Regions from separate parts of the Homo sapiens genome. Here regions 1, 3 and 4 are each reported to be linked to region 2. The links are microRNA targets in miRTarBase. Many come from high-throughput screens and were not tested one by one. Region 2 holds a microRNA gene; each other region holds the end of a gene's coding sequence.

Region 1 (7,481 bases), not on the chromosome of region 2:
ACAAAGGTAAGAGACTACCCTTGTCAGGTATCAAGACATATAATCAAGTTATAACAATTAAATAATGTGCTACTTGGCCCTTGCTTAGGCAAACTGACCAATGGAACAGAACAGGAAGTCCCCAAATAAACATTTGGCTACAATGGCAAATTTCCATGTAAGTAAAGCCTCTGAGGAAAGGATGCATTAGTCAATAAACGGCGCAGGGAAAACTGATTTTCTACATAGTAAAAAAATAAAATTTTAAATCTATATCACACATACACAAATCAATTCCAGGTAGGCTAAAAACTTAACTGAGACACTTTTTTGATTTTCAGAAGCAACATTGAGCAACTATGACCCTGGGATAGGACAAATTTCTTAAAACATAAAAATAACTCACGTTTGAAAATATTAAATTTTGTTTACAAAAAAACCCAAAGTGAAAAGCTACAAACTGGATGAAGATATGTGCAAGAACAACAAAAAAACAACAAAAATATCAATATCCTAAATACAAAAAACTCTTAAATAAGAGCAAAAACAGAAAAATAAAAGACATCAAGACATATTTCACAGAACAGGAATGACTAATAAACATGAAAATGTTTTTAACTTATTAATCAGAAAAATGCATGTTTTCTTTTATAGTGAAGTGAGTGCTGTCACATTCATAAGGAAAATGCAATTTAAAGCCACAATAAAATACCATTTTACACCTAACAGATTGGAAAGAATTGGGTCTTATGATAGCAAGTAAATAAGAAACCATACTGTAAAGCGGTGCAACCAGTTTGGAAAACAATTTGGCATTATCTTGTAAAACTGTTAAAAAGCTGATCAGGCACATGCCTTACAAACCACCAACTTTGAATCTAGGTTTATATGCTAAAGAAACTCTTGGACATGAGCACCAAAAAATTGGATATGAATGTTCGTTTCAGCATTGTTTGTAAAAGCAAAAAAAAAAAAAAAAAGAAAAACTAGACCCAAGAAAATAAATTGTAAAAATAAACCTGTTGAATAAAAACAACAAGTTACATAAGACTACATAAAGAATACTTTTTTGTTGTTTGTTTTTGAGATGGAGTCTTGCTCTGTTGCCCAGGCTGGAGTGCAATGGCGCGATCTCAGCTCACTGCAACCTCCACCTCCCGGGTTCAAGCGATTCTCCTGCCTCAGCCTCCCGAGTAGCTGGGACTACAGATGCATGCCACCATGCCTGGCTAATTTTTGTATTTTTAGTAGAGACGGGGTTTCACTATGTTGGCCAGGCTGGTCTCAAACTCCTGACCTCGTGATCGGCCCACCTCGGCCTCCCAAAGTACTGGGATTACAGGCGTGAGCCACTGCGCCCCGCCAGGATGATACTATTTTTTATAAAGTTCACAAAAATAAACGATATATAGCCATGGGACATATGTATGAAAGCAAAAGGGAGGCCAGGTGCGGTGGCTCACACCTGTAATCCCAGAACTTTGGTAGGCCGAGGTGGGCAGATCACAAGGTAAGGAGATCGAGACCATCCTGGCTAACAAAAATACAAAAAATTAGCCGGGCATGGTGGCAGGTGCCTGTAGTCCCAGCTACTTGGGAGGCTGAGGCAGGAGAATGGCGTGAACCCGGGGGGTGGAGCTTGCAGTGAGCCGAGATCACGCCACTGCACTCCAGCCTGGGAGACAGAGCAAGACTCCATCTCAAAAAAAAACCAAAAGGGAAAAAAAAAAAAAAAAGAAATGATAGATTCAAGGAGGTGGTTACCCCTAAAGAGTAGGCTGGGGATTGGAATTGAGAAGGAACACAAAGGTAGGGTTAATACTACCAGAAAGGCTCCAGTTCTTAGTGGGTGGCTTCATAGGTATTTTATTATTATGTCTTCATCTTGCATATATTTTTATGTATGCATCAAATACTACCTATAGAAATGTAGTGACCAGGCCAGGCATGGTGGCTCACGCCTGTAATCCCAGCACTTTAGGAGGCCGAGATGGGCGGATCATTTGAGGTTAGGAGTTCAAGACTAGCCTGGCCAACATGGTGAAACCCCATCTCTACTAAAAATACAAAAATTAGCCAGGTGTGGTGGCATACACCTGTAATCCCAGCAACTCAGGAGGCTGAGGCAAGAAAATCACTTGAACCCAGGAGGCGGAGGTTGCAGTGAGCCAAGATCACACCATTGCACTCCAGCCTGGGCGATAGAGTGAGACTCTGTCTCAAAAAATAAAATAAAATAAAATAAAATAAAAAGAGACTGAGGCAGAAGAATCACTTGAACCCAGGAGGAGGAGGTTGCAGTGAGCCGAGATCATGCTGCTGCCCTCCAGCCTGGGCAACAGAGTGAGACTCTATCTCAAAAAACAACAACAACAACAACAACAACAACAACAAAAGAGAAATGTAGTGACCAGAAATACTTTCATACTGCTAAGAAGAGACTACAAAAAAAGGAAATGATCTTTTCTTAATGTATGCATACTGTATTACCTAGTGAATGCAGAAGTATGTATAACTGATATAGGTGGAGCAGTTGAGTTTTTTAGTCACAAAGAATATTAGTCAATCACTAACTTAGTTGTGATCTTCAACTAGTTATTTAATGTCTTTGAATCTATTTTCTTTTTAACTTTTGAACCTTTTTTTTAACGGTGAAGTATCAAATTACTGTAAAGATGAGAAATGTTATTAAGTGACTGGTACAGGCGATACATTTTTTTAAATGATAGCTAATACTCCCCATAACTATTACTCATATCTAAGAAACCCCTTATATTCTACTGAACTTAGCCTCAAACCACTAAGATAATGGAAGAGTGACTTGTTAAAAACAACAAAAAACGCACCAGAATTTCTGCATTCAAATAAGGTTGCCTCTCAAAGAGACTATACACTTCTTTCACTGACCTTGCCATTGCTCAGGATTTTAGAAATATTTCATTCAAACTGTTTAGTGTTGAAAACATTTTTACCAGTAGATGAAAAACCTCACTTCTTTGAAAGTAGATTTTACCTATGAAAATAGACATGAAATATTTTCAATCATGTTTGATGAATAATCAAGTTAAGATTTTGGTCAAGATTAACATATGACTATGATGAGACTAATTCTTTTGAGTGACTTACAAATGATCTCTTCAGGCTATTTTCAAAGATGAGTTTCAAAAGAAGTTTTAGCAATGGCAACCTTAATTTTTTTAAAAAGCTACAACTTTGCAAGGTTTCTACTTGGAAGGACAACAGTCATCCTAATGCATAGTCTCATTTCTATATAGTACAAGTCTGCAATTACTGAAGAGACAACTGCTTAAGATCAGTGAAACTACTTACATCAGTTACCTTCAACCTTTAATTTTCATAAGGGAAAACGAAAAGCTTTCTAAAATTTTCAGTTAAACATAAAGATCCTTCATATAAGGAGAAAAATATAGCCAACCTACTCAATTTTGTATTTGAGGAATGGAGAATAAACAATTACACAGTTTTGACAGGATCCCATAACAGCAATCAAATAATGATGAGAAGCAGTTACACAGACCTTTTAGAGAGAAGTTTGTGCTAATAGAAATATGCAATGTATTTTAATTAAATAAATAGCACTGATGTGACCCCAACTTTTTGATATCCATAGTTGGTGATATATATGACCACTTATTACATTGATTTTCTGGAGTATTATAACACAAATTTATAAATGGTTTTAAGAAAATATTATAGAGAAGTTTTACTGACACTTGGAATTTTACATGAAGGGGAAAGAGACATAGCCAATGGCATCCCAGTAATAATTTCTTTACACATCTGATACGAGAAACCACAGAAACATTCTTAACTGATACAACATGAATTAGATTCTAAAGGCATTCTTTAAGACATAGAGAAAAAAGAAACAAAGAAAATTCTCAAGTTTACCATTTACAAGAATAGTTTATGCAATTTCAAGAAGTCCTTACCAAGGCATTCAACAGCACTGTAAGTTCAAAGTTCATTTGGGAATTAAAAGAATGAATAAAATACTCCTTAGAGGGAGTACAAAGTTTATTCAAACATTTTAGAAATAATCAATTAATTACATAAGTATATAGTGAAATCTGTCAAAAACAATGTCAAGTAACTTGTTTTTAAAGTGGCAACGCAATATAGTAAAGCAATGGCTTTAATGACTAAATGAAAGAATCACAAAGCACCTAGAAATATTTATTGAAGAAATAATAAACAAATTTTCATGATTTATTTTGTCCATTTGCAATTTCAGTATTTTAGCTCTATCTCATATCATTTTTTGGTAGGTGCTGTTAACATATGAGGTTAAAGTGGTAAGTCTCACAATAAAGTAGCCATCTTCTTTGAATATTTCATCTCTTCATTTCTATGAATATAATCATCTTTCAGCTGCATGATTCCTTCAGCCTGATTCTCATTTCATGTCTCAATAAACGTGTTTTTGCCTGATAAAGAGAACTGTGCACATATTGATTCTGCTTTTTTATCTTTTTTTTTTTTTTTTTTTTGAGATGGAGTTTCACTCTTGTTTCACCGCTGGAGTGCGATGGCTCAACCTCGGCTCATTGCAACCTCCACCTCCTGGGTTCAAGCAATTCTCCTGCCTCAGCCTCCTGAGTAGCTGGAATTACAGGTATGCGCCACCACGCCTGGCTAATTTTTGTACTTTTAGTAGAGACAGGGTTTCACCATGTTGGTCAGGCTGGTCTTGAACACCTGATCTCAGGTGGTCCACCCACCTCGGCCTCCCAAAGTGCTGGGATCACAGGCGTGAGCCACCATGCCTGGCCTATTTATCTTTTCATACTGCTGTCAGGTCCTTCAAGGCTATGCTTCTGATTGCCCACACACTTTACTTCTGAGTATTTCATATTTTACGGGTAGGTAGGGTACCAACTTAGTATGTTAGATAACCATTGTATAGTAAAAACCAGAAATGAAAATATAATAACCCTTATAACTCCTTACATATAAGAAAGACAGAAATACATCAAAGAAAAAACATTTTAAATAATCTCAGGAAACAATAACAAGATCCTCTCCCCGAAAATAAATATAACAAACATATTAGTAACCATAGCTAAACAAACACTGTAATATAAGAACTCCATTAGACATAAGAAATAGACATTGAAGCCAGGTTTTGACACTTATTCTCCACATCCAGCCAGTTGTCACCAGTCTAGTAAGTGCTACAGGGTTAACTGCCTCTGGACTGACTGAAATATGGTTGTACTTACACAAAAGAACACTGGTTCAGATCCAGCAATGACTTATGAACTTGCCCATAGGTAGAAAAAAATAGCTTACTGGATTTATATCTGCTTCATAAGAGACTTTTATCTGCCAGCCTGACCCCTCTTAAAACTTTTTTTTTTCTTTTTTGGTTTGATATACTCAATAGGCACTGGCTTTTTTTTGTGATGTGGCTTTTTTTGTGATGTGGCTTTCCACACTATTGTAGAAGTCCAGAATCCCATTTAATAAGATGCATGAGCTATTAGTCAATGAACTTTAGGGCTGGATGGATCAACGAAGTGTTTTTCACTGCCCCAGCTTCCTTATGAACCAGATTACTGACCAGCGGTGAACTACAATAAATTCGAAGACACAACTAACAAAAACTTAGGAAGGCCTGGAAGAGAGGTGCCAAACTGCACTGCAAATACAAAATAAAATATTTTCATGTTCTTGATAAATATTTATAAAAAAATATACATATAATGAATAGGCCATTTTATAATGCTAGTTAAAACTTTGAAGAGCTGTTAAATCTGTAGGTCCATCAATATCCTGGCTTCAAATCAATATGTAGAAATATTTTTAATTAAATTTCAATAAATACACCAGAGGGATTTAAATATGATAAAAACAGTAATTTCAATCTCTGTTTTTACCAACAATATGTTTAATTAGTTCGTGATGGGCTTGAACTAATCAATAAACTACAGTCTACAAAAAGGTTTTTGTAAAAATGCATTCATTTCTGATAATAAATAAATGCAGATTGATTCTGTACAGTCAGAAAAACCAGGATGGTGGCAAATAGCAAAATAGAGAGATGATAAATCTTGGATCCAAAATCAAATGATCAAAGAAGACAGTTAAAGATATTTTCAGACTGCCCACATTAGAGTCATGTAATCTGCATCATTCTTTCTCAAGGTCTCTCAATTGGGCACCAGAATAACATCAGATCTAAAACCTTGTTCAATATTTCCTCTGGTTCACCTTTTGATTATGTAACAAATACTTTTTGCAAAAGATGAAAAAATAAAACTGTAAAATCATTTGGATGGAGTTAGCCCAGCTAGGTCTTTTGGTGTCCTAGCAATTCAAACTGAAATTAAAGGCTTCTTATAGCCTATAAGCTTCTGAAAATGCAGCTAAGTGGCATTCAAAAAGACAGAACATTTTTTCTACTTCCGTAAATATAAAAGAAATTGAAAAATCACCACCTAGAAAAAAAAAGCTAGGCATAAATTCATCAGCACCAAGTAGAAATGATCTTCAAAAGGGGCAAGTCTCTTATGTATCCTTGTGTTAATGAATAGGTACTAATCTCTCCTCTAGGAAAAACCCACTGCCTGACGTTAACATCTTTAGGCAAAAGAAAAGGCAAAACTCAACAAATTACATTTTGATTCATCCAAATAGAGAGAGAGAGAGAGATTTCAAGATTTTTGGCACTACTTTAAGCATTTTTCAGGGTAGGTATGATTTTAAGTTCGACTATCTTCTTCCCTACTCCATTATTTGCAAAAGCAGGAAGTATCAAATTTAACTCTATTACTAATAATTCTTCAGGTATCATTCCAAAAGTTGTACTTAGTCACAATACAACAGTTAACATTTAAATAAGACTCTAGTTGCAGTAAAAAGTGTTGAAAGGTGGTCATATCAAAATCTTGGTTTTCTTTTGTACCTATCAGATATGACTAAATTGTTGGTGGCCAGAACTCAAATCACATACAGTCAACCACATTATTGGATCCATGACCTACATCTCGAATTTGGCTAGTTAAACAGGAACACACAGCTACTCCTGCTCCAGCTCTGCAGTGAGACACAGATCCAACAAGCTCCCACCTGAAAAGACGGAGAAGAAAAAATGTTACAAAGCATAATTTACTTTACTCAAAATACTAACCAAAGACAAAAATTCCCTATGTGAGACTGGTTTTGTAGGACAGCAAGCTTCCAGTGGGAGATAAGATATCCCAAAGCTTAGTATTAACTACGACTAGCAACATTTTAACACTCTGAAGTAATCTACTATTATACCAGAAGATAATATAAAGCACGGAGACAACATGTAAATTACCTATTCAGCACTGGATCAAACGCTTCTACTGTATTTAAGTATGCATTGCCATTATGACCACCAACTGCAAAGATTTTGCCCATCACTGTTGCGATTCCCACTCCACCTCTGGGAGTAGTAAGTGCTGCCACATAATCCCACTTGTTGCTTCGGGGGTCATACCGCTCAACTGAAC
Region 2 (7,698 bases):
ATAAAAAAAATTAACTGGACATGGTGGTGGGCTCCTGTAATCCCAGCTCCTCAGAAGGCTGAGGCAGGAGAATAGCTTGGACCCAGGAGGCGGGGGTTGCAGTGAGCCGAGATCGTGCCATTGCACTCCAGCCTGGGTGACAGAGTGAGACTCCATCTCAAAAAAAAAAAAAAAAAAAAAAAAAAGGAAAAGGAAAAGAAAAACTAATAATGGCATGTCATTTTTGTCACCTATCAAATTAGAAAAAAATAGAAAAGATAATAGTCTATGCTGGTGAGAGTGCAATGAGGTGGTCATTCTTGTACAGTGCCAGTGGATTAGATTGGTACATCATTTTTGGAAGTAGTTTGATGTTATCTATCAACATGTCTAAACATAAAGATTCAGATAAATAGAGATTCAGGTAAAGATTTACATACCTTCAAATAACATTATTTGTAAAAACAAAAATGGGAATAAAAAGAAAAATGCCCCAAAATAGGGGAACAAATATATTACGGATGGAAACAAGATGAGAGACTTACAAAACTATTAAAAAATATTTTAAAGAAAAGTTAATGACATGGGAAAATGTTCATGATTTAATTGAAATGAATCAGATTATGATATAGATAATAAAAATTAAAATATGCCAAAATCATTTATACAAAAGTAAATTAACCTGAAAATAAATAAGTTTATTCAAGATTAAAGTATATTTTATTTTATATGTCCTTAATTGTTAACCAGAAACTAGGGGGTCTAGGGGATACCCTTACCTGCTGTTTGGTAACCATCACTTTAACCTTACTCAATTAGGCATATTTTAGGAGGTGGGACAATGGGTTTTGTCAGAACGAGGATTTGGGTGTCACTCTCTCACTCCCCATCCCATGTCTTCCTTTGTCTCCCCTCTCCTCCCTCCCTTCCCTCCACATTTTGTAATGCAGAGAAAGGTAAGATTCATTAAGACTTGGGTGAAAAGAGTTAACATGGGCAGAATCCTGGAAGACTTCAAGAAGAAGGTGGAATTCAAACGGAGTCCTGAAGAATAGGTAAGGTTTTTCTAGGGGAAAAATATAGGTTAGATCATAACCTTTTTAGTTTCTACATGTCAATGATACTACCCTAGACTATAAAGGCAATGCCTTTGAGAGGTACTAAGAGTGGTTTTCCTTTGGGACAGCTGTATTTGGAATTTTCTAGTGCCTTTCCTCAGAGTTCAGGTAAGTTTTCATATTCTGAAGCTCTGATCTTGGGATCAATATAGGATAGATATAGAAAAATTTCAAGAATTCGACGTTGTTTTGATAAACCAAGTATGTAATATGGGGAGTGGATTAAGGTTGATGGGGTGGTGGGGTGGTATAGTGGCTGGGAGGTATTGGGGAGAAGAGAAAGGAACAAATATTTGTTGAGCCTGCTAATTGTTACCATGCTTATTTAATTTTACCAAATGTACCTAACAACCATATGAAGAAGGCAGTTACTTCAATTTTGAAGATAAGAAGTCACGAGGGCCTAATGGAGGCTGGGGTAGTGAAAGTGGTGAGGAGTAGATGTATGTGACTTATATTTTCAAAACAAAATTGAAAATAGCAGTGGCAGGTGTGGAGGGAATGTTAATTGGCTTAATTGTGATGTACAGAAAACCATTTTAGAAAACTAAACTCTGGTTAGTAACAGATTTCCTGCCAATGTTCAGAGGCTTTGAGCCTGGGTCATCTTGGGAGGATGGAAAGGCTATTAATGGAGGTGGGGACTTAAGAGGAAGAGTATGTTGGAGGGAAGATGATATTCCCTAATTCTTCAAAGCCTCTTCTGTGCTTGTCAGTTCACACTGCCCTTCTTATTGTGCTCTACCATATTGTATAGGCACTCCATATATGTAAATATTTACAAATGCATCTTTGGGAGGATACATAAGAAACTTTTAACAGTGATTGCCTCTAGAAAAGGGAACTTGGTGGGATTGGGAAGAACCCTTACTTTCATTTTGCATTTTTTGAACTATGTATCATATACATGTGTTACCTACTTAAAAAAAAGAATATTATAAAGCAGATGAAAAATAAAATAGAAAAACCTAATACCTCTCCAATACATTTCCATATTCTGCACTTTAATCACAAAATTCTTCTGCATCCTGTGCCCTTACTTGTCCATGAAACCCTTCCCTGACCATTCTAATTCATATCCTAGCCTTTCTGACTATTTGGTGTGGGAATGAATGGGAAGAAGGAAATGGGACTAGAAAGTTCAGACTATTCTTGCAGAAGATTAGTGGAGAAAGGAAGGATATTAGGTAATGTGAAACCTTGGAGTCCAGGGAGGTTTTCTAATTTAGGTCTTTCCTTATTTGTGACTAGGAGAGATATTTGCACCTGTCTAATAGGTGTAGGGGGAAAGACTGGAGAGAGGGGAGAGAAGTTGAAGACAAAGGAAATGGAGAGGTTGTAAACGGGTTTACCAAAACCTATCAGCCATGTTGGGATAGAGTTGCAAATGAATGTATTTCTAGAGAACTGCTCAGAAATGGTTCTGAAAGCCTGAAAAGCTCTCTGTAAGGAACCAGATTTCAGAACAGGCCTCTCTCTGGCCATTTCCTACAGCAACTCTTCACAATTAGTCCTTTTGGGTCTGCTGAGTTCTATCAAGCAATCATTCAACAAATGTTGAATGACCATTATGAGTAAAGTCACGGCACGGGACAGGGATTGTATGGCTTAATTAAATATACTGACTTGACATTCACAAAGGAAAGAAAGGTTCTGTGAGAAAAAGTTGCTTAAATATAGGTTTTGAGATGGATTCAAGTCCACAGAACCAATACAGTGCTTGGTTCCTAGTAGGTGTCCAGTAAGTGTTTGTGACATAATTTGTTTATTGAGGACCTCCTATCAATCAAGCACTGTGCTAGGCTCTGGGACTACATAGATAAGTTATTCAACATCCTACATTTTGAGGTACTTAGGCCTAGTGGTGGTTACAGTAGAGTGATTAATATTTTGACAAAGGTACAAACGGGTAGGAGAGGATCTACCCCAGAAACAGAACCAGATTTCAGTGTGTTGAGGGGTGAAAAGGAAAAGAGTAAGTGAAGATGGTGAATGTAAATGGTTCTTTAAAAGTTTTTAAACTGTTCTTAAACTGCTTTTAAAAAGCTTGGTTAGAAAGAAAAGGAGAGACAGGGCAACAAACAGAGAAAGAGATAAGGTGGAGGGACTGTTTCTTAAATGATGGGAGGTTTCAGCATATTGTTGTGCAGAGGACAAAGAACCATTGGAGAGGGAAGGAGTGAAGATTCGAAGTTAGGACAGTGATTGATGAAAAGAGATGTCTGAATATATAGGAAGAGATGGAAGAGAAAGTTGGCCAGGAACTCCTGAAGAAGTTATCATGTGGTGCCAATAACTCTCCTGAAGAAGGAAACCATAAATTTTCAGGTGGTACCAGGTCAAAATGTGGTTAAAACTAGAGAAAAGAAAATGGTTGCAATAATAGATTATAGAGCCTAGGCAAGTCAGAAAAAATAATTAGGATGGACTGATAAACTGACAGAAACCAGGAGCCCATAGAATAGGAGTAGTATGGGCAAGGAAGTAAAAGCCCTCACTGGAAAATAAAAGTAGCTGAAGAGTAGGGTATACGAATTTAAGATTTCAGAAGTAGAGCTGTTCTGGATGATGAAAAGACCCTGCATGGGCCATGGATGTGGATAAATGAAGTGTAGAAAAAGTCACTGGAATTGAGTCAAGCAAGTGAGGCTTTATGGTTAATCCCCATGGAAGCCCCTCTGTGATGGTACAAAGATTTGTACCAGAAGTCGAATGTTCAATTTATGTTTGTGAGAAACCAGGAAGTAAAGAGATGTCAGTGATGAGACTCTTTGGTAGGGAAATGCTAGTTGTCTTAGTTGTCATTCACCCACCCTCCCAAATAAAGAGACAGGTGAGAGAAGGTGTGCTGCATATCTGTGAACTTGGCTTCCCCTTCTCTAAGAGCTTCAAAGGGAATGAGATGGCAGACTCAGGCTGCTTAGGGAGTTTAATCTGTGAATGTGTAGTTCAGCCTGTCCTAGTGGTACCAGCTGCATGCAGATGTAGCCAGCAAGATAAGGCAGTTCAATGTCTGCGGCTAGCTGGAAACATGTAACTCCTCAGAAGTGGTGAGAGGTGTAGGAATGAAGAGGAACTGAATCACACAAAGGAGATGAAAACAACACGTCTGGGCTGAGTAATTCTGCAGAAAGTGTGGTGAGCTGGCGGTCTGTCCATGTATTTCCATGGTCTTTACAAGAATAGTAGTGAGTAATAACATATGAAACAGTTTATCACTGATGCTTTGAGATGAACATCAGGCAGAGAAGCCAAGTTTTCCATGTGTCTAGGAGAGCTTTTGAGGTACAATTTTGGCTACCAACTGGCTCCACAGTTTAGATCTTGGTGGGGAAAATATTCTAGAAGAAGAGTAGTGACAGCAACTCCCATCTTTGGAGGTACCTGTGAAGAAAACCCAGAGAAAATAGGGAATAGCTTCAGGAAGCCCTAAGCTGTCCTCTTTCACAATAGCAACAATAATAGTGATGATGACAACAGCTGAAACTTATGTAGCACTTACTCTATGCCAGGCACTGTTTTAAGCACTTTATTCATATTATTTCTTTCAGTGCTTAAAATAATCCTGTGAGGTAGGTACTAATATCCTAATTTTCCTAAGAGAACGATACTTTGTTACAATTCCCAGGATCCCCTCCTACTTACCCCTACCTACTATGGCTTGGCTTCTGAGTATGTAACATAGAGGTAGAGGCCAGTGGCCTGGCTGAATCTTTGAAGATGATTTTGGTCACATGGTAAAGACCATGCCACGGGAATCTGGTGTTGTTCTGAAGTAAACCTGACAGACAGAGAAGCCTTCACAAAGGTTTTATAAGATCCAAAATTATAATTATGGTGTGTGTGTGTTTCTAAATGTAGATTAGATTATCTCTGGTATCACAAAGTAACACAAGGAACTTTTAACAGTGTTTTCTTCTAGCAAAGTTAACTGACTTTCAAACTGTATATAGCCTTTTGAATATGTTAGAATTGTTTACCATGTGCATGCATTTCCCTTTCAAAATCTAAAACAAAACAAAAACCTCCAAACAAATGTTAAAAAAGAATAAATTTCCAAATAATCTTTTGAAAACTCCATTTCCTCATCTTCCCATTTTCCCCTGTCTCACTCCTATACTTATGACAGGACTTTGGATAGAGGAAAGAAACTTAGCAGGAGCGAAGCTTGCTGCTGCAATTTTTGCCATGTTTTCTGGGAAGTCATATTGCATCCTGTAACATTCCAAATAAGCCCATAACAAACCTCAAAAGTGTACATTCTCAATTTTATATTCCAAATAGTATAACATCGTGAATATGTCCATAACAAACCTCAATAGTGTACATTCTATACTTTATATTCCAAATAGAGAAACAGAGAGACTTTTGCAGCCATTTCTATCTATTTTTATTTGAATGGAGGTTATAACCAGGTTTGAATTCTAGTGAGTGTTTGCTTAACTGAAACATTCCATTCCAATTAGCCCGAGCGACTTAAAGCAAAGAAAACCATCAAGTAGAAGTCTGGCCTTTCAAAAGAATTTTCTGTACCCTTGGAATTCATTGCAAATTCTGTTTTAATATTAGACACACTTATGCTACATGCACTGGCTTAGTTTTGCCTGTGCTCCTTCATCTTTGCCAATACCATCTTGCATCTTCCCTTCAAGGTCATGTGCCAGTCCTCCTAACAGTGAAATTATTTTCCTGGTTCAACTTTCCCACACAGTCCAGAGCCTCTCTCTATTCCCAGCTCAAACTCTTCCTCTCATTTCTGTTTGTCTGAGGGAACCGTTTATTATAGTTAAGTTTCAAGGTGAATTAAAAAATCTCTAAGGTCACCTCCTGCTCTATAATCTCTGGTTCACTTGAAGGAACTATTTCACATTCCAAAGGCAAACCTCCCTCTATTGGTTCTCCTCTACCTTCCTTATGATTTATTGTCAAGGGTTGAATATACTTCTTTTTCCAGGGACAGCCCTGGGAATTCACACACCTTAAACCAAAGAAATGGATTGTTAACATTAACAGTGAAATGTCTAGTCTCAAAGAGGCTGATGTTCAGGTGGAAGCCTTCATAGTGTCCCTCACATCCATCCACCCTTGTAAACAGCTGTTCTTCCCCTGCCCTAAGTAAGGAATAGATCAAAAAAACAAAACTCCATCCTTCTTGTGGAGCCTCCCTTGATATTCCTCCACATCTCAATATTATCTTTGCACTTTTGAGGTTATCTGCTAAAGCAGGCTTGCTTGGTCTGGTTACTGTGTAGATTACAGCCACATTGTTAAAAAGGCCTCCAACACCTGGGCCATTTGAAGCCCTTGTGGGTTCTTCTGGCTCCAGGTCCCTGGTTGGGGATTTCATCTTATGTATTTGTACTGCCCCAAAACTAGTTGTTGCTGGCCTCAGAATCAGATTGAGAATTCTGGGAAAATTAAATCCTTATGCTTTGCCCTAAGGCAAAACACTCCCTTTTATTATCTTAAGTGCCCGATTTCCATTAATCGCTTTATTTTTCTGGGTGAAAATTAATACCATATTTAAGGAAGATAAAGTCACATGGTCTCCAGTACCAATATCAAACATTGAGTGCTACATAGTGGGAAGTAAGAGACAGGAAGAATAGCTCTGCTCTCTAAGGCTAAGGTCCTGGACCTGTAGCACTATTCCAACTTAGGCTAGGTTAGAAGAGATCCCTTGCTTGGAAAGTTGGAACACACGCACGCATGCACGTACACCCTTCCCCGACCCCCGCCCCCCACATAAAATTGTCTCAGGCTTCTCTTCTAAACAGATGACATGACAACAAAAGGGAGAAGTAGAGGGCTCTGGTAGGATCTGGAATGATGTCTTCTCCTCTTCTTAGTCCTAAGGGTGATCCAGCTATGTCCTAGCTCATAAAGTCTGCTTGGCCTTGGTGTCAACCTTAATTGACAGCAATGGCAAAAGCCCACAGATGACTGAGTCACATAATCAGAAAGATGCTCTAGAGGTTATTTAATTGACCCCATTCTTCTTTCCTCTGCCCTTAGCTCCCATGAAGGATTATACCTAAAACAAGCTCTTACCTGCAGAACTTGTCAGGAAAGGCTGTAGGATTATTATTTTCATTGCCACTCAGGGAAAGTGGAGTCCAAAAAAAGCAAAGTAATTGGCAACTCAGCTTTACTTGCCAGCCTGGCTGCACATGGGATTAGGTTTGGAATGTCAACTTTCCAGAAAACATACATGGACAGAGAGAAAACAAGAAGAGAGTGAGGACAGAATGGGGCCTTCAAATAAGCCATCCAAGTTGTGAAGCTTCTGGTGTCTCCCTGCTGCTTTCTATCTATAAGAAAATTTCACTTCTGACAAAGTCTCCCTCCCCAAGGTCTCTAGGCCCCCAATCACTTCTTACTCATGGTTCTCAGTAGATCTCTGAGCTTTGAGGCAAAAAGCTTGTGGATGAGTGCACACACATATGTCCACTTTGTAGGACACTTCTTCAGTCATAACCAGAGAAAGTAATTTTTAAAAAAAAATTCTTCTAAAAATTGGGATACATATGCAGAATGTGCAGGTTTATTAAATAGGTATATGTATGCCACGGTGGTTTGCTGCACCTATTGACCCATCCTC
Region 3 (7,698 bases), not on the chromosome of region 2:
TTTTATTTTCTTGGGAGAATAATAAAGGAGTTTTCATTTACATAATAGTCCTCTTATAATTTGCTTGATGATGGCTATTGTAGGTATAAAATACTCCTGAGGAAACAATATTATTCAAGTAGCTACAACAGTGATCAAAAGAAGAAAAGCTTGTTGATGAAATGTAGGCTAAAGCCCATCATAATGGGCTCTGATAGGATAATCTTTTTCAATCATAGTAAATTCAAATACTTTTTTTTTAATAATGCAACACAAGTACCAACATAATATATGCTATCATCCTTGCTTTGGTATGTGTTCATGCACATGTTCCAAAGGTTTATTATATGATTTTTTTTCACTTTTATTTAGGCCAGTATTTACCAAACTTTTACTGTGGCACACTTGGATATGGTTAAGGGTACTTAGTAAAAATGTTTCCATGGTCCAATAAATTGGGCAAACAATATTTGGTATCGCTACCAAAGATTCACAACATAGATTAGTATGTTGAGAATTCTGAGCAGCTCACTGTCTCAGTCTGTTCAGACTTGCATAACAAGATGCCATAGACTGCGTGGCTTATAAAAAACAGAACTTTATTTCTCACAGTTCTAGGGGCTAAGAAGTCTAAGATGAAGGCACTAGCAGATTGACTGTCTGGTGACAGCCCTCTTCCTCATAGATCTTCTCTAACCTCACATGTAGAAAAAAATGAGTGATCTCCCTTGGGCCCTTTTTACAAGGGCACTAATCCCATTCATGAGAATTCTGCCTCCTGACCTAATTACCCAAAGGCCCTATCTACTAATACTATAGGAATATGGGGAGGACATAACCATTCAAACCCTAGCACTCACCTAAAAAGAAACATATTTAGCAAGGTTTGAATCCCAACCCAGATTTCACAAATCTATTTAAACATGATTTTTTTTTTCATAGCATACTTCTTACTCCTGCAGAACATCATTCTGAAGAATAAGCTATTGCTACATGGATTGAATCATAGCTGATACTCTACTAAAAAGTCCACGATAAAAATTATGTCCACAAATGTTTTGTCAAATGATTTAAGAGCACTTAATCTTGCTGCCATTCTGTTTTAAACCTGCTTCAATCAGGCTCACCCCTAAAACTTGATAGAAATTGGCATCCAGGTCATTTTTGATATCAGTATTGCTAAAAACAACAATGGTTAGTTCTCAATCATCGTCTTACTGGATTTAGTGGCAGTATTTTACAAAGTTGATCACTTTCTACTTCTTTCTTTTCTTTTTTTTTTTCTTGAGATAGAGTCTCACTTTGTCATCCAGGCTGGAGTGCAGTGGCATGATCTCAACTCATCGCAACCTCCACCTCCTGGATTCAGGTGATTCTCCTGCCTCAGCCTCTCAAGTAGCTGGGATTACAGGCACCTGCCACCACACCTGGCTAATTTTTGTATTTTTAGTAGAGGCAGGGTTTCATCATGTTGGCCAAGCTGGTCTCGAACTCCTGACCTCAAGCAATCCACCTGCCTCGGCCTCCCAAAGTCCTAGGTTTACAGGCGTGAGTCACCATGCCCAGCCGCTTTCTACTTCTTGATATATTTATTTCACTTCCTTCCAAGACACAAAACTCATTACTCACTGGCTGCTGCTTATCAGATGCCTGTGTAGGCTCCTCATCTTCTTTTTGCATTTTTAGAGTACCAGGGGACTCAGTTATTCAATTGCTCTTTATGTCTCTACACATTCCCTCAGTAATTTCATCTACTCTCAAAGTTTTAAGTATCACATGTTTTGACAATCCCAAAATGCATATTTCCAGCTTCACTCTCTCTCCCAAACTTCAGACATATCTCCACCCATTTACTCATCATCTCAAATTTGATATATCTCAGCTGAACTTCTGATTTTTCCTCCTAAATTTCTTTCTGCAGCCTCTCCCATCTTAAAGGCAACTCTGTATTTCCAGTTACTCAGAACATGAAGCTTAGAATCATAGTTTTCTCCTCTGTCTTTCACACCTACATCTAATCCATAAGCAAATCCTGGTAGCTGTACTTGCAGAATACATCTGGAATCCAACCACTTCCTACCACTTCCACTGCTGCCACCCTCGTGCGATGCACAAGCTGCAACAATTTCTCATCCTAGAATACTGAAATAGCCTCCAAACTCTCTCCTTGTTCCACCATTGCCCCTCTGTCTATTCTGAACAAAGCACGTGGAGTGACCCTTTTAAAATGATTTAAAGATCAAGTCATTTATCTGCTCCAAGCTCAGCCACCATATCACATTCCAAAATCAAATCCTTTACAAAGGTTGGCAAGGCCCTAGGTGATCTGTAGGGCTGCTTTCAACCCCTCTTATCTATGAATTCATCTCCTTCTACTCTGGTTTGCTCACTGGCCTCCAGTTATGCGCACTTCTTTGCCATTCCTACAACTTCCCACATATGCTTCCACCTTCAGTACAAACAATTCCCTTCAAGCATCTGCTCAAATTTACCTTCTCAATGAGGCCAACACTGACAATCCTGTCAAAAATTGCAACACATCCTCAACCTGCCTGCCCTCACAATTCTCCTCTCCTGTGCTACATTTTTTTTCCATACTTTATCAGTTTATAATTTATTCATATGGTTATTGCTTGTCTTTTTCCATAAGAATGTAATCACCCCCACCATCCTGCTCACCAGTTACGGTGTATCATAATGAGTAACAGTAAAAAGAACTGCACAATAAATTTAGGTAGCTCCACATTAGGGCAACCTCTGGAGAGAAGTTTGCGAGGGAGTTGAGTAACAAAGTTGAGATATGAGGAAGAATATGAATTTCAAAGGAAAAAGTAGGCCTGCATGGTAGGAAACACATGTACCACACATCTGTTACCTCCCATTGACTTTGGTTGTTAGATGTAAATGTAAACCAAATGTAAGTTCACATTACTTCATCTGTTCTGACACCATCATTAAAGAAATCCTGAAGTAAGCAGGTTAAGACAAGAACTGTCCTTATCTGTTGATGCAATATTCTATTAAAAAAATCTGATACTAGAATCTTAAATTCAATCTCTGAATTACATTGTCAGGGCTAATCATTGGGGCTTCTTTTCCTAGCTATCAGTTTTCCTTAAATGTCTGACATTCTTTGGACATCAGTATGTGTTTATGAAGGATTAGATCAAATTGCACAGATAGCTGAGAAAAGCAGTTTCTTCAGCAGTTATGTGTCTGCATTAGACCTCCTTTTTGAATAGAAGCGATGGTTCTCAGTAAATTGTCAGGCAGTGGCCAATCATAGCTCACTGCAGCCTTCAACTCCTCCCACCTCAGCTTCCAGAGTATCTGGGATTATGGGTGCATGTCATCACACCCGGCTAAATTGTCAGGGTTTTTTAACCAGCAGGTACCCACAGGTGAGTATGTGGTCTGCATGCAGAGAAATTGTTTCCCACCAAGCCAACATAAGGAGGCTTTACTCTGGGAGTGCTGCCATTTCTCACCAGCACCCCCTTGACCTTCAAGTGAAAATTCACTTCACCTTTACTCTGCCTTCACCTCACACCCTAATACCCTCAATGGGTAAGTCTTCCCCCAAATAACCCCATTCTTTCAAGACTTGTTTAGTCCCTTGCCTGAGGAAAAAGTTACTTTTGTTAACAACTGTTTACCTGGAGGGAGTAGCTAAGAGCAGAGCTTTCCAATGCAGTTCTTCAATAAATTAATATGAATGAATTCTGCACCCTCACCCAAATCCAATCCTTAAAGCTTCTCCAGGACATCCTGATTGTGGTTTTTCTGATTTATCTCCCAAGCCACACTCTTCTGCTTTATATATTACTGGAATGTCTCAAAACTTGATTTTTTTTAAAATAGGCTACAGATAATCCTCAGCCCAAAATTCAAGGTATAGCTAATTTTATTATTATCAAACAAAACTAGTAGATATAACTTCCAGGAAATAAGTTACATAAATATAACAGAATAAATTCATTTTCTTAAGTTTCAAATTAAAGATGATTAAGAAATACAGCTTTATGTAAAGTTTCTGCTTTTTCTCAACCACGCCTAAAGAGGAAAGAACTGGCAGCAGGAACACTTGCTCCTAGGAAACAAATACAACAAAATTATAATTAAAAAGATCTTCAAGCTATCAAAATTTGTGAGAGAAGGATGGTAAGAATGCAGTAGAAATTACCAAATGACAAACAAAATCCTATCAGTTTTCAGGTTGGTCAAAAGTAACTTCATGAATATAGCCTGTGATCAGCATATGTCCCATAGCTTATATGCCCTCTATACCTCCAGAGTTGCATAATAAACTTTTAACAATAAAACAACAACGAATATCAGGTTGTAAATATTTATATTTCTCTCACATACAATGTTGTATGAGACACTTGTTTTAATATGTATCCATAGGATTAATACTCATATGGAGTATAATGTGGAAAAGTGCAGAACTAAAGAAATAAGTCTATCCGAAAACAAAAGCACACATTTCTCAGGATTTAAAAATATTGCACATAGTAAGGTTGCACAGAAATTACTGGCTGGTTTTACAAACAGAATGAGGTATCAGTCAATCTCTAGATAAAGATGAGAGAGAGGATAAACTACACACACACAAACACATAAATCCATACTAAGACCTAAGAGTGCCAACAACTAAGAAAGAAATATGAAAAAGCTATGTAAGTAGCTATGATTTCAACACTACAAAATCATTTTTAGGCTGGAACCAAACACATAACAATCTCTTGGCAATATTTCGTTAAGTTTTCAACTTTTTTCCAGCCTAAATGACTATGGGCAATAAAACCATTTCCTTTACCCCAGTTCTACTGTAGAAAGGCACAGCGCTGTGGTAAATATCAAACCATTCCTTTCTCAACCTTTCAGTAGCAATTAACCAAGATACTGTTCTCCTTTACTGAATGACTCAATTATACAGTTTCATGTACACTCTGCAACGCAAGTCACAGATGTCATAGAACATGCAACTTTGAATTAGTAAAGGTTTCACTGCAAAAATCATTAGGTTCACACAATTTAAATCTACAATTAACTTTTAAAGTTTAATCAGGTAAACTCAATATTTTCTTGGTAATAATACTGGTGATATTAGTGAGCCCAAGGGCAGGTAGAGAAAAAGCACTAGGCAAAATTACGTGTTTTTTAAAGAAACTTTCCTAATCAGGGAAATAATTAGCATTTTGTCTACTCGTTGAATGTTGAATTTGTCAAAAAAAAAAAACCCTTAAATATATTTAATAGCTATATCAAATTGTTTAAAGTGAAATCATGCACTTGTCAAAATAGTTCACAGAAAATTGTTTAGCATCAAAGATAATGAGGAAGAGTCAACCAGTTGGATTTAGTGAGAATAGAATAAGAACTACTGTCCTGAACAGTCAGTGTATGTAGTAACCATATTTCCTCTTCGTTGAGTGACAGTCCTGCAGTGCTTGCTAGATCCATGAAATCTATTTTCAGTCTGTACTGTATGCTGATTGGTAGAGTCAAAACCACTAAAAGAAAACATTTTCTCCATATCTTCAAACATGTCATCAAATAATCCACCTCCAAAAGAAAATTCTTGGAAATGATGCCTTTGTCTACTGGAACCACCATCCTGGCGTGTCTGGAAATGATTTTCAAAACGCTTCTTGGATCCAGTGTTTTGGTTTTGACCAAAAAAGCCAAAGTCTTTAAATAAGTCATCAAAATTGAAGTTAAATGACTGCTCAAAAGAACTTCCACTACCTCTTTGTCCTTTACCACTAGTAAAAGCACTGTGTCCAAGTGTATCATACTCTTTTCGTCTATTAGCATCTGAGAGTGTTTCATATGCTGAAAGTGACAAAAATATTTTTAGTAACTGAAGGTAAAATATTCAAAATTACATATATTCAAATCTCTTCAAGCAAGTGAACTGAATACTATTATTTTAGGGAAGAATTTCGCATCAGAAATAAAAGCAAAACACTACAAATATAAGCATCAAGTTAATCAAAATTATAAAATAAAGCAGAAACTGTCTTATTAACTGCTGAGTTATCAGCAGTTGGCACAATGCCATCTGCAATACTCAATAAAGTTATTAAATGTTACCATTACTACAAATAAACATGTGGGCAACAATCAGAGTTCTTTAATCTTCATATTATTCGTGTGAAATCATTAATTGTATTAAAAAATTAAACCATCAACTATAACCAATTAATAGGAATTAAGATTTTGCACCTCCTTACTAAAGTAAACTGTTTAATTCTAACTCCCTACTCAGTTACCTCCATCCAACAATAATTACTGAATGCTCAGCAGGTGCAATTTGTTTTAGAGCTAGTCTGAAGTCAAAATTTGTTCCAATTTTTTCTTTGAAGACAAATATGGCTTTGAAAAGCAGATCAAGTGAATAAAGCACTTTAGAGTCTAGTTTAATTTTTAAGTCTTTAATGTTTAAAATGTAAAATATTCTGTTTCATAAGTTAGTTGATAAGAATTTTGGGTACCTAAAATTCTTTTTTGTCATAGAAGCAACAGTGATCTTATAAATAATATAGAATAGATTTTCAATATTTTTAGATACGTATACCAATAAAATTATCTATTATTCTTTCATATATTTATTCAGGAATCAAAGCATCTGTGATAAGAAAATAATCTCAGAGAATCACCCAATATTTATACATAAATCCCACTCCACCTCCCATCTCCACAAAACCTTCAAATACAAACACTTCTTAGCTATCATTCTCCTTACTAGTTAATACCCATGACACTTCAGAGATTGTCATTTATTTACCTTCTGCAATCTCTCTGAATTTTGCTTCAGCATCCGGGCTCTTATTTTTGTCAGGGTGGTACTTCATGGCCAACTTGTGAAAGGCCTTCTTGATTTGGCGCTCTGATGCCGATTTTGGCACACCTAAGATATCATAGTAGCTTTTTGAGGCCAGAATTAATTCTGTTATCATTAAAATGCAGATTGCAAAGATGAAAATTGACTGGGGAGTAGCCATTTCTAATATCCTAAAACAGAAAAGAAAAAAAAATGTTATGGATGGAGCTAATCTTAAAACGTTTTTCTTTTAAAAGAAATCCAACACAAGGTAAACCTAATGCAGTATCAAAATAGTAAGCATACAGTATCTATTACCTGTCCACATGTAATTTCACTTTTAGTTTTATAACTCTCAAACTGGCTTAACCTTATTGAGAACAAAAATAATTCTTGGCTTTGTCTGTCTACTAATACTCTGGCCATACACAGAGGAGATAGAAAATTATCAATAACTGACTTTTAACCAGTTTATATTGAAGATTCATCATATGCAAGCATTGTAAGAAAAAAAAAGAAAACCAAATAATATAAGATCCCAACTTTCCTTTCAAGACTTCATATCCTGAAAGTAATAATGTATTTAACTTCACAGAAAAAAAAAACATTAAAAAAAAAAGGTGGCGCACCAAGGTAAATAGCCCAGTATATCTAAATTAGTATTATTAATCTCGCTCCAAAAATTCAGCTTTCATTTCAGCAGGTGAGCCAAGGACTGCAAATAGAGAATCTTAATATCACAATACTAATACTGACAATACAATAGAATGTTGTCTTTTTCCCAAATGTAAGATCCCAAATGTTTAACCAGGAAGCATGGCTAAATATTGTTTAAAACTCATGATGAACAGAATTTAAGATTTCTGCTAAAGCTGCCAGAAAAATGAACT
Region 4 (7,698 bases), not on the chromosome of region 2:
TCATCTATATAACTAGTACCACTGTCCCTGTGGCAGTGTCATGAAGCGAAAGACGAAGGTAATACAAGATGGTAAAAGCAGGGAATTATTTCTCGCTTATTTCTTCTTTTATGGAGTTTGGGAGTATTGAATCATGGTCTTAATATTGAAATATTTCACCAAAGTCCAGGGGACTCCTTTGGGTAATGAGGTTGAGCTGGCACCAGATCAGCTTCCAGATTTGATGCTTAGCATTTTGCTGGTAAGATGGCTAAAGGATTTTAATTTAGCCTCTATTCTATAGTGGCTTAAAAGAACAAAGGGTGGTGCGTTTTCCCCTTATACACTCAAAACCTACAGCTGTTTCTTGTGAAGGCTAAGCCAGGGCCACACATATCCAATGAGACTGACTAGAAATTTCTCCTGCCTTTGGGAAAGGATGACTGTCAGTGTCAGAAAAGCCAGGCTCTGCTGCCTAATCTGCAGTGACCTGTTAGAGGTCTAATAAGTCTTACCCCTGTGGGCTCTACCTGTAGAAACAATACTAGGTACTAGTTTAGGGGGCTGCTAGAAAATAATGAGGTCCTTTGAGGAGAGATCTTCTAAAATCACACATTAGTGATACTGAATTATTGAGAGTGACAAACTTTTTTATCTTCACCCATAATAAACTTTTTTTATCTTCACTTTGTTAGCAAATCCAAAGAAATGTGGAATTTTTAGTTTAGCAGATTCAAAAAGTAGAAAACAGTTTACCTTCCATATGACATATTTATATGCACTATTTAAGCTTTGAGGTGTAGCCCATTTAAATTTCTTCTTTGAGATTTCCAAATACATTATATCCATCTCACAATCCCCCCACGTACTCCAAATTTTGCATGGTTTACCATTGCCCATTCTGACCTCATTCTTCTTTCTAGTACATGCCTGCAACGTCAGCTATGCAAGGAGCCTACTTGCCACAGTATGCACATATGCAGACGACAGCGGTTCCTGTTGAGGTTGGTAGAGACCATCCAGTGACCATTCTGGCTATAAGTAGTTTCAGAAATGGGTAAATTAAATAGAACTCAGAAAAATCTACCAGACGTCAAATATTTGCATAAAGAATTGCGTTTAGCCAGATGTGGTGGGTCATGCCTGTAAGTCCAACACTTTGGAAGGCTGAGGAGGGAGGATTGCTTATGGTCAGGAGTTAGAGACCAGCCTGGGCAACATAGTGAGATCCCATCTCTACAAAAAATAAAATTGTTTGAAAATTGGCCAGACATGGTGACATGGACCTGTAGTCCCAGCTACTCAGGAGTATGAGGCAGGAAGAACCCTTGAGCCCTGGAGTTTGCAACTACAGTGAGCTATGATCATGACAAATTAGGGTAACAACATCCAGGCCACACCTCTTAAGACTCCCAGAAATATTTTCTAAGCCTATAGTGCCTTTCATACCCCTCGGACGTTCTGTCTTGTCTCTCATAAAATGATACTACAGACATAATAAGATAAATCTGGAGTTTGCAGTCCCAGTACTAAAGATCGTATCAATGATAATTAATAATGACGAAAAGAAATCAGTTGTAGTTAAGATACTTAGTGGAAAAGAGAAAGCTGTTTTGAAACTGCTACAGGGATGAAGAAGAAGCTATAGCTGTTTTTACAGAGGCTGTTAGTATGGCTAGATAACTGTTCTTGTTATGGAAGATACTGATATGAAAGAAAGAAGTCTAGCATTTGAATTATGGTTAGAGAGAAAACGTGGCATTTTCCTGCAAAGTATCCTTAAAATTTCAAGGAAATGTATCAATCCAGTTGATCTTGCCCACTAGGCAGATCCCAAAGGTTCCAATTCCAGGAAAGGATCATAGGACTCTGGCCTGTTGGTGGAGGTGGTGGTGGTGGTGGTGATAGTAGTAGCAGTAGTAGTAGTAGTAGGTGTTGGTGGTGGTGGTGGTGGTGGTGGTGGTGGTAGTAGTATTTTACTTCTGTTTGTGCAATTACTGACAACCACAGTTACCAGAGCCTACAATTCCTTACCTGCAATCTGAAACCCAAAAAGAAATCTGAAAATAAAAATTATCTTTGTAACTACTTTAGCATAAAACCTGACCTATGGCAAAACTCAACCTGAATTGAGATGAGACAAAATCTTGATCCCACTTAACTGTGCTGCTTCATGGCTTCCAGTGTAGAACTATTAATATGTTTGCTTATGAGGTGCAGCCCTAGACCCTACTGGAGGCATTAAATGATATACAGCATATGCATACCACATTTCAGATTATAAAATCTGAAAATACTGAATTCCAAATCACATCTGTCCCCAGGGGATAAGAGGGTAAGAGATTTGTTTGATATGCTGTAGCTTGATAAGAATAGGAAAGTCATAAACATTTGGATGGGAGGTGCTTTGGGTCTGTTAGACATGCCAGCTGCTTAGGGAAATGATTAACCTTGAAAGCTCTACATGACGTGAAGAAATTTACTTTAAAGAGTAACTGTTTTTAAGGCACTGTTGGATTCAGTCAGGCCTAAGTAGCAGAGCTGAGGTTTTTTCACTAACATGTCTCATCCATTCTGCTTTGTTTGTTGTAGGAGGCAAGTGGTCAACAGCAGGTGGCTGTCGAGACGTCTAATGACCATTCTCCATATACCTTTCAACCTAATAAGTAACTGTGAGGTATGAGGGAAAGGTCTTCATAACTGGGGGGCTCAAATCAAGCACAATCTATAGGGCTTTTTTTAAAATCAGAATGGTGATTGGGATAACTCGGATTTTATCATACTGCTTTAATCGTGGCCAAGGCATCTAGTCTTGTTGAAATATTAAAATCAGTGATTTTATGAATTTAAGATTAATCATTTTGTCTAAAGAGAATGCTTTATACTGAAGCCAAATGTATACTCTCCCCACTAAAAAGAAAAAAATAAAAATCTGTAACATCAGAGAACACCAAGAACCAAAATTGTTCTATAATACAAGTATCCTATATCATATTACTTTAATACTCAGAAACTGGAGGACCTATAGCATAAGATGTTGCTCAATCTAGCATTACAAGTTTAGCAACATCTTGATTATGAATTTAGATAAATGTCAATATCCTTAGATTGAAAGATTATATTCCCAACTCTCACTTGAACCACAAATTTCAAAACTTTTCACTTTACCATGCAGACTGTAATAAAATAGCTGTGTAGAACTTAGAATACCCTGGTTTCTGCATTGCCCTGGTGATATAGAATACCTTGGTTTCTGGATTGCCCTGGTGATAACATGTATTTTTGATTTCATAAAGTCACTCTTTAGAGACCCAAATGAATTTGGCTCTAAATTAGAAAAGAAAGTATTTTGCAAGTCCTGGATGTGACAGGCATTGAAAGTAACCATCAGTTCCAGAGTCTGCATTTATCAGTCTACCATCAGTGATGAGCATAACCTTTTTCAAACACATATCTCTTTAAAACAAGAAACAGATTACAAAGCTCTGTAGTGTTTCACACCAAATCTACAAAAGCATTTGTCTTTTATTTTTCTCTTCCAGATGTACAGAAAGGTGTTCTTACATGAAGAAGGGTGTGAAGGCTGAACAATCATGGATTTTTCTGATCAATTGTGCTTTAGGAAATTATTGACAGTTTTGCACAGGTTCTTGAAAACGTTATTTATAATGAAATCAACTAAAACTATTTTTGCTATAAGTTCTATAAGGTGCATAAAACCCTTAAATTCATCTAGTAGCTGTTCCCCCGAACAGGTTTATTTTAGTAAAAAAAAAAAAACAAAAAACAAAAACAAAAGATTTTTATCAAATGTTATGATGCAAAAAAAGAAAAAGAAAAAAAAAAAGAAAAGAAAACTTCAATTTTCTGGGTATGCACAAAGACCATGAAGACTTATCCAAGTGCATGACCGGATTTTTGTGGTTTTGTTCATTTTGTGTTTAATTTGTGTTTTTTTTTTCCAGCTGTATGAAATGGGCTTTCTGAAGTTTAAATAGTCCGACTTCACCCATGGTGTTCTGTGCTTGCAGTGCGAGTGTTGCTGTAATTCAGTGTTGCCGTCAGTGTCTCTTTTCTTAGCTTTCTGTCTTTCTTTCAACGTAGTGTGAAGTGTCTTATCCTTTTCTATGAATTCCAATTTGCCTTAACTCTTTTGATGCTGTAGCTGTTTCAGTAAAAGTTAGTTCAAACTAATGATGTAGAATGCTTTGACCAAATGAGCTGGTCTATTATGCCTTGTAAAACAGCAGCATAGGGCTTTTAAAAGGTAGTCAATAAAAGTTGCTGAAATTTTGGCTTTTTTAAATATGTAGTAGGTGTTTTTAATGATTTTTCACATAATGTGTAAGGTAGTGAAATGCAAGAAGGGAAAAATGTTTTGTGTGAAACACATTTTCTGACTGGGGAACTTTTATTAGGGTAAATTGTTTGTAAGGCTGTACGCCAACAGTTTCCTCTGATAGTTTGACTGATTTAGGATATCTGCTGTATGATGCAATGTAAAGTCTTTTTTGCCTTTTTTCAGGAAAAAAAAAAAGCTAACTTGATGTACTAGATTTAGTGTAGGTAGTGTTGGGGTTGGGGATGGGGGTGGGGGAGGGGAGTCACTGAATGTTTTGTCCTTCCTTTATACTAATGATAGTGCTTTAGAATGAGAATTATGCCTGAAATCTGGCAAACCGAAAAATGTTGCTATTGCAACAAAGTGGCAAAAGCTAAAAGTAAGGATTTATCTTCAAACATAAGCTGAGATAACGAATAGAAGCAAAACGATTGGCTACTAGCTCTCTCTCTCTCTCTCTATTAGGTAAATTTGAAAAATAAAAATGACTTGGCACTTTTAAAGGTAACTTCACCAAAGACCGAAGAGCCAGTAACCAGTAGCTCCAACTTGTCTCAGCATCACATCTTCTGTGCTCTTTATTTTTGCCGGACCAGTTTGCGGTTAGGAGAATGTGCCTTTTTTGTACCTTTGCATTTAGGTTTTATAATTTTAATTGATGTATGGACACACACAAACAAAAAAGCATGAAGGAAGATTTGGATCCAAGCAGTGCCACACTTTACATCATCACTACAAGTGTTCAAGTGTAAAGAAAACCAATTTTGAAACTATGAAATTCCTGATTCATAAATACACAGTTATTTCTACTTTAGTACATATAAGATAATTCACTGTTATTAAAGCTCTTTTATTAAGGCAATTGCATATGTTTTAAAAGCAATGGTAAATTAAGTTGTCTTCCAAAACTGTGTACTTGTCTGGTCAGCTGTGTATGATCAGTTATCTACCTCAGAGTCTATTTTCTTTTGTGCTGGGACAGGTTGCTGGCCCTCCCTGTTTCCACAGACCAAATCCTCCTAGCTCAGGAGCTAGGGCTAAGCAGTTATTTCTTTCAAGTATTTTTTAGTTCTTAAATTTTATGCTTGTATTTGATGATAGATGTCAGTGACATTTCATAGTTTCAAAAGTCCTTGCTGCTCTGAGAAGTGTAGATTCTAGTGAAAATTACATAGTCATAAGAGAAATGTGTTTTTGTTTTTGTTTTTGTTTCATTTTTTTAAAGTTGTGGTATTATTGGTTCTATGCTCCCTGGAATATTACTGCTTTGTGAAAGTCCAGACTGAACGCAGCACCCTCTGTGTACCTAGTACAGTTATAAACCTGGGTCTCTCACTACTTGATATTTTTGCATTAGTTAAGACAGAAATTTGATAGCTCGGTTAGAGGGGAGGGGAAATCTGCTGCTAGAAATGTCTGAACTAAGTGCCATACTCGTCTGGGTAAGATTTGGGAAACATAACCTCTGTACATAAAAAAAAAAAAATCAGTTAAACATCACATAGTAGACAGCCATTAAATTATAAAAAAATTAATTTATGAAGAAAGACCTTTTGTACAGATTGAAAAAAAAAGATTTTCATAGAGATATCTATATGATCAAGAGAGTTAATTTTTTATTTTTGTTTTACTAGTGCCACAGACTTGCCAGTGGTAACTTATTTGTCCGGTTCAAGATAACTCTGTAGTTTTCTTTCCTAGGACTTGTTGTTAAACGCCAAAAGACATTTTTGAACTGTACATTTGATCAGATTGTTAGCTTTTCTGTTTTATTTCTTTTGAGAACCTTTGAATAAAAAACATCTGAAATTTTATTTTTCCTGTCAATTTTTTTTAAGTCGATTAAGTGTATATCAGAATTTCATTTCATTTCTGATCTCTTTCTTCAGCTCAGTAGATTGGTTTGAAAGTGAGTTGAAAGTTATGTCAGATTCAATATATCCTCAAAATACATTTCCTTGAAAACAATTGGAAAAACCTTTCCACCCCACTTTTGCTGGTTATTTAAATCTGTGTAATGACCAGAGACGTCAACCCTCAGCTCAGCACGTCAACCGTCAGCTCAGCACGTCAACGGTCGGCTCAGCAAATATCCAGCCCAAAATACACCACTAGTGGTCTGTTCTTAAAGACCAAAAAACCAGGCCCTTTTTCTTCCTCCTTTCTTGCTGCTACGCCTCAACTATTTCATTGCTTGTCAATGCTCAGCAAGGAAGACAGCCTAACAGCAGCCCTCCCACCTGTGGTAAGGAAGCATGTGGGCGAGAACCTCGGGATAATCTTATCTATGCGTTTATGACCAAGGTCCTCTTTCAGAGCTACCTGTTCAGCTGTTCCCGACTGGAGGCTCCCGTGCAGCATTCACGGAGGAGCGAGAACTCCTCTTTCCCTCACTTGACTGCTTTATAGGAGGCACTTAATATGCAAAATAGGCTCCTTCTGCCCAAAGTGGAGTAAACGTTTTAGTGTGGTGGTTCAGTATTTATTTCCTGGTGTCCAGTGGCTCTGTCATGGTGATAAAAAGAGTGGGCAAGGAAAAGATGCAGTCCGCTCCATTTCTGGCTGCGTCCCCTGCCATGTGGATGGTGTGCGGGGTGAGTTAGATAAGGGAGGGGTCAGAGCACTTAACTTGCCGGAGCCAAGAAATCGCTGGTACTTGATGGCTGTTTCAGAGAAGGAAACAACATTCCTCTGATGCTAACTGGTGCTTCTGAGAGCAAAATGTCAGGGAGGAGAGAAGCATGGCCTCTCGAGACAAACCCAGGCTGCTAAGAATGTAAGCTCTGGTCTCACTTTGCGTTCCAGCCAAACACCTAAGTGCTCCTTTCTATGACCAAAGGTAAGAAAGAAATGCAATTCAGGCTCCTGGGCACCTTCGTTTTTGTTCACCCTATTTTTGTTGTAGCTTCTCGCCGCTGAAGTCCGCGGCCCTCTATCTGGCTGTGTTATGTACTGAAACCGGTAAACATACTCAGGAGCACCAATCCACGGAAAAGGGAGGATCAAGCCAGCGATGGTGGTTCACAGTTACCGCTCCCATATAACTAGAGGGGTTGTGGCATGTTTGGGGATAAACCCCACCTAGCTGAAAGCTCTGAGACTGAAGTGGAATTCTGGGGTTGGAGGAGAGGAAAGAGGGTGTGGCCGTTGCTCTGTGGTCTACGTATTTTCCCCTCTATAGTGGCTGGAATGAGGAAAGCCAGGGAGTGGAGGCGGGAGTCCCGTTTTTCACCCCACTGCCACACCCTTCATGGCCAGTGGCTCTAGGTTTATCCGCTGGAGCTTAAATCCCACAAATACTGATTTAAAATTCACTAGGAGAAAGGCAGTGCCTCCCAGCCTGAGCCGGGGCTCAATGAATGTTAAGATATGACTGA

Evidence for each region. Region 2 holds the annotated microRNA hsa-miR-325 (CCUAGUAGGUGUCCAGUAAGUGU, at 2,824-2,846, shown strand). A microRNA usually pairs through its seed, bases 2 to 8, with sites in the 3' UTR of a target mRNA and lowers its output. Matches are read on the target gene's strand: a 7mer-m8 pairs with bases 2 to 8, a 7mer-A1 pairs with bases 2 to 7 and ends in A, and an 8mer does both.
Region 1: the mRNA of KLHL8 is a reported target of hsa-miR-325. Seed matches in the 3' UTR shown: 7mer-A1 at 5,164-5,170.
Region 3: the mRNA of DNAJB9 is a reported target of hsa-miR-325. Seed matches in the 3' UTR shown: 7mer-m8 at 3,903-3,909.
Region 4: the mRNA of RBMS1 is a reported target of hsa-miR-325. Seed matches in the 3' UTR shown: 7mer-A1 at 4,529-4,535 and 7mer-m8 at 4,757-4,763.

Annotation. Positions count from the first base shown.
Region 1 is chr4:87,156,572-87,164,052 of GRCh38, forward strand. It overlaps KLHL8 (kelch like family member 8), which reads right to left. Exons shown (of 10, transcript NM_020803.5): 9 at 7,307-7,481; 10 at 3,532-7,071. The coding sequence ends at 6,948. Among named protein-coding and RNA genes, the nearest start is that of KLHL8, 60 kb to the right of the region's middle.
Region 2 is chrX:77,000,612-77,008,309 of GRCh38, reverse strand. MIR325 (microRNA 325) reads left to right here and starts at 2,809; the gene lies at 2,809-2,906. It overlaps MIR325HG (MIR325 host gene), which reads left to right. Exons shown (of 3, transcript NR_110406.2): 2 at 930-1,034.
Region 3 is chr7:108,571,018-108,578,715 of GRCh38, reverse strand. It overlaps DNAJB9 (DnaJ heat shock protein family (Hsp40) member B9), which reads right to left. Exons shown (of 3, transcript NM_012328.3): 2 at 6,773-6,999; 3 at 3,866-5,817. The coding sequence starts at 6,989. The coding sequence ends at 5,363. Among named protein-coding and RNA genes, the nearest start is that of DNAJB9, 5.0 kb to the right of the region's middle.
Region 4 is chr2:160,270,588-160,278,285 of GRCh38, reverse strand. RBMS1 (RNA binding motif single stranded interacting protein 1) reads left to right here. Exons shown (of 14, transcript NM_016836.4): 12 at 903-983; 13 at 2,572-2,656; 14 at 3,522-6,135. The coding sequence ends at 2,649. It overlaps LINC02478 (long intergenic non-protein coding RNA 2478), which reads left to right and starts at 6,391. Exons shown (of 2, transcript NR_103775.1): 1 at 6,391-6,566. RefSeq lists an enhancer at 7,574-7,698.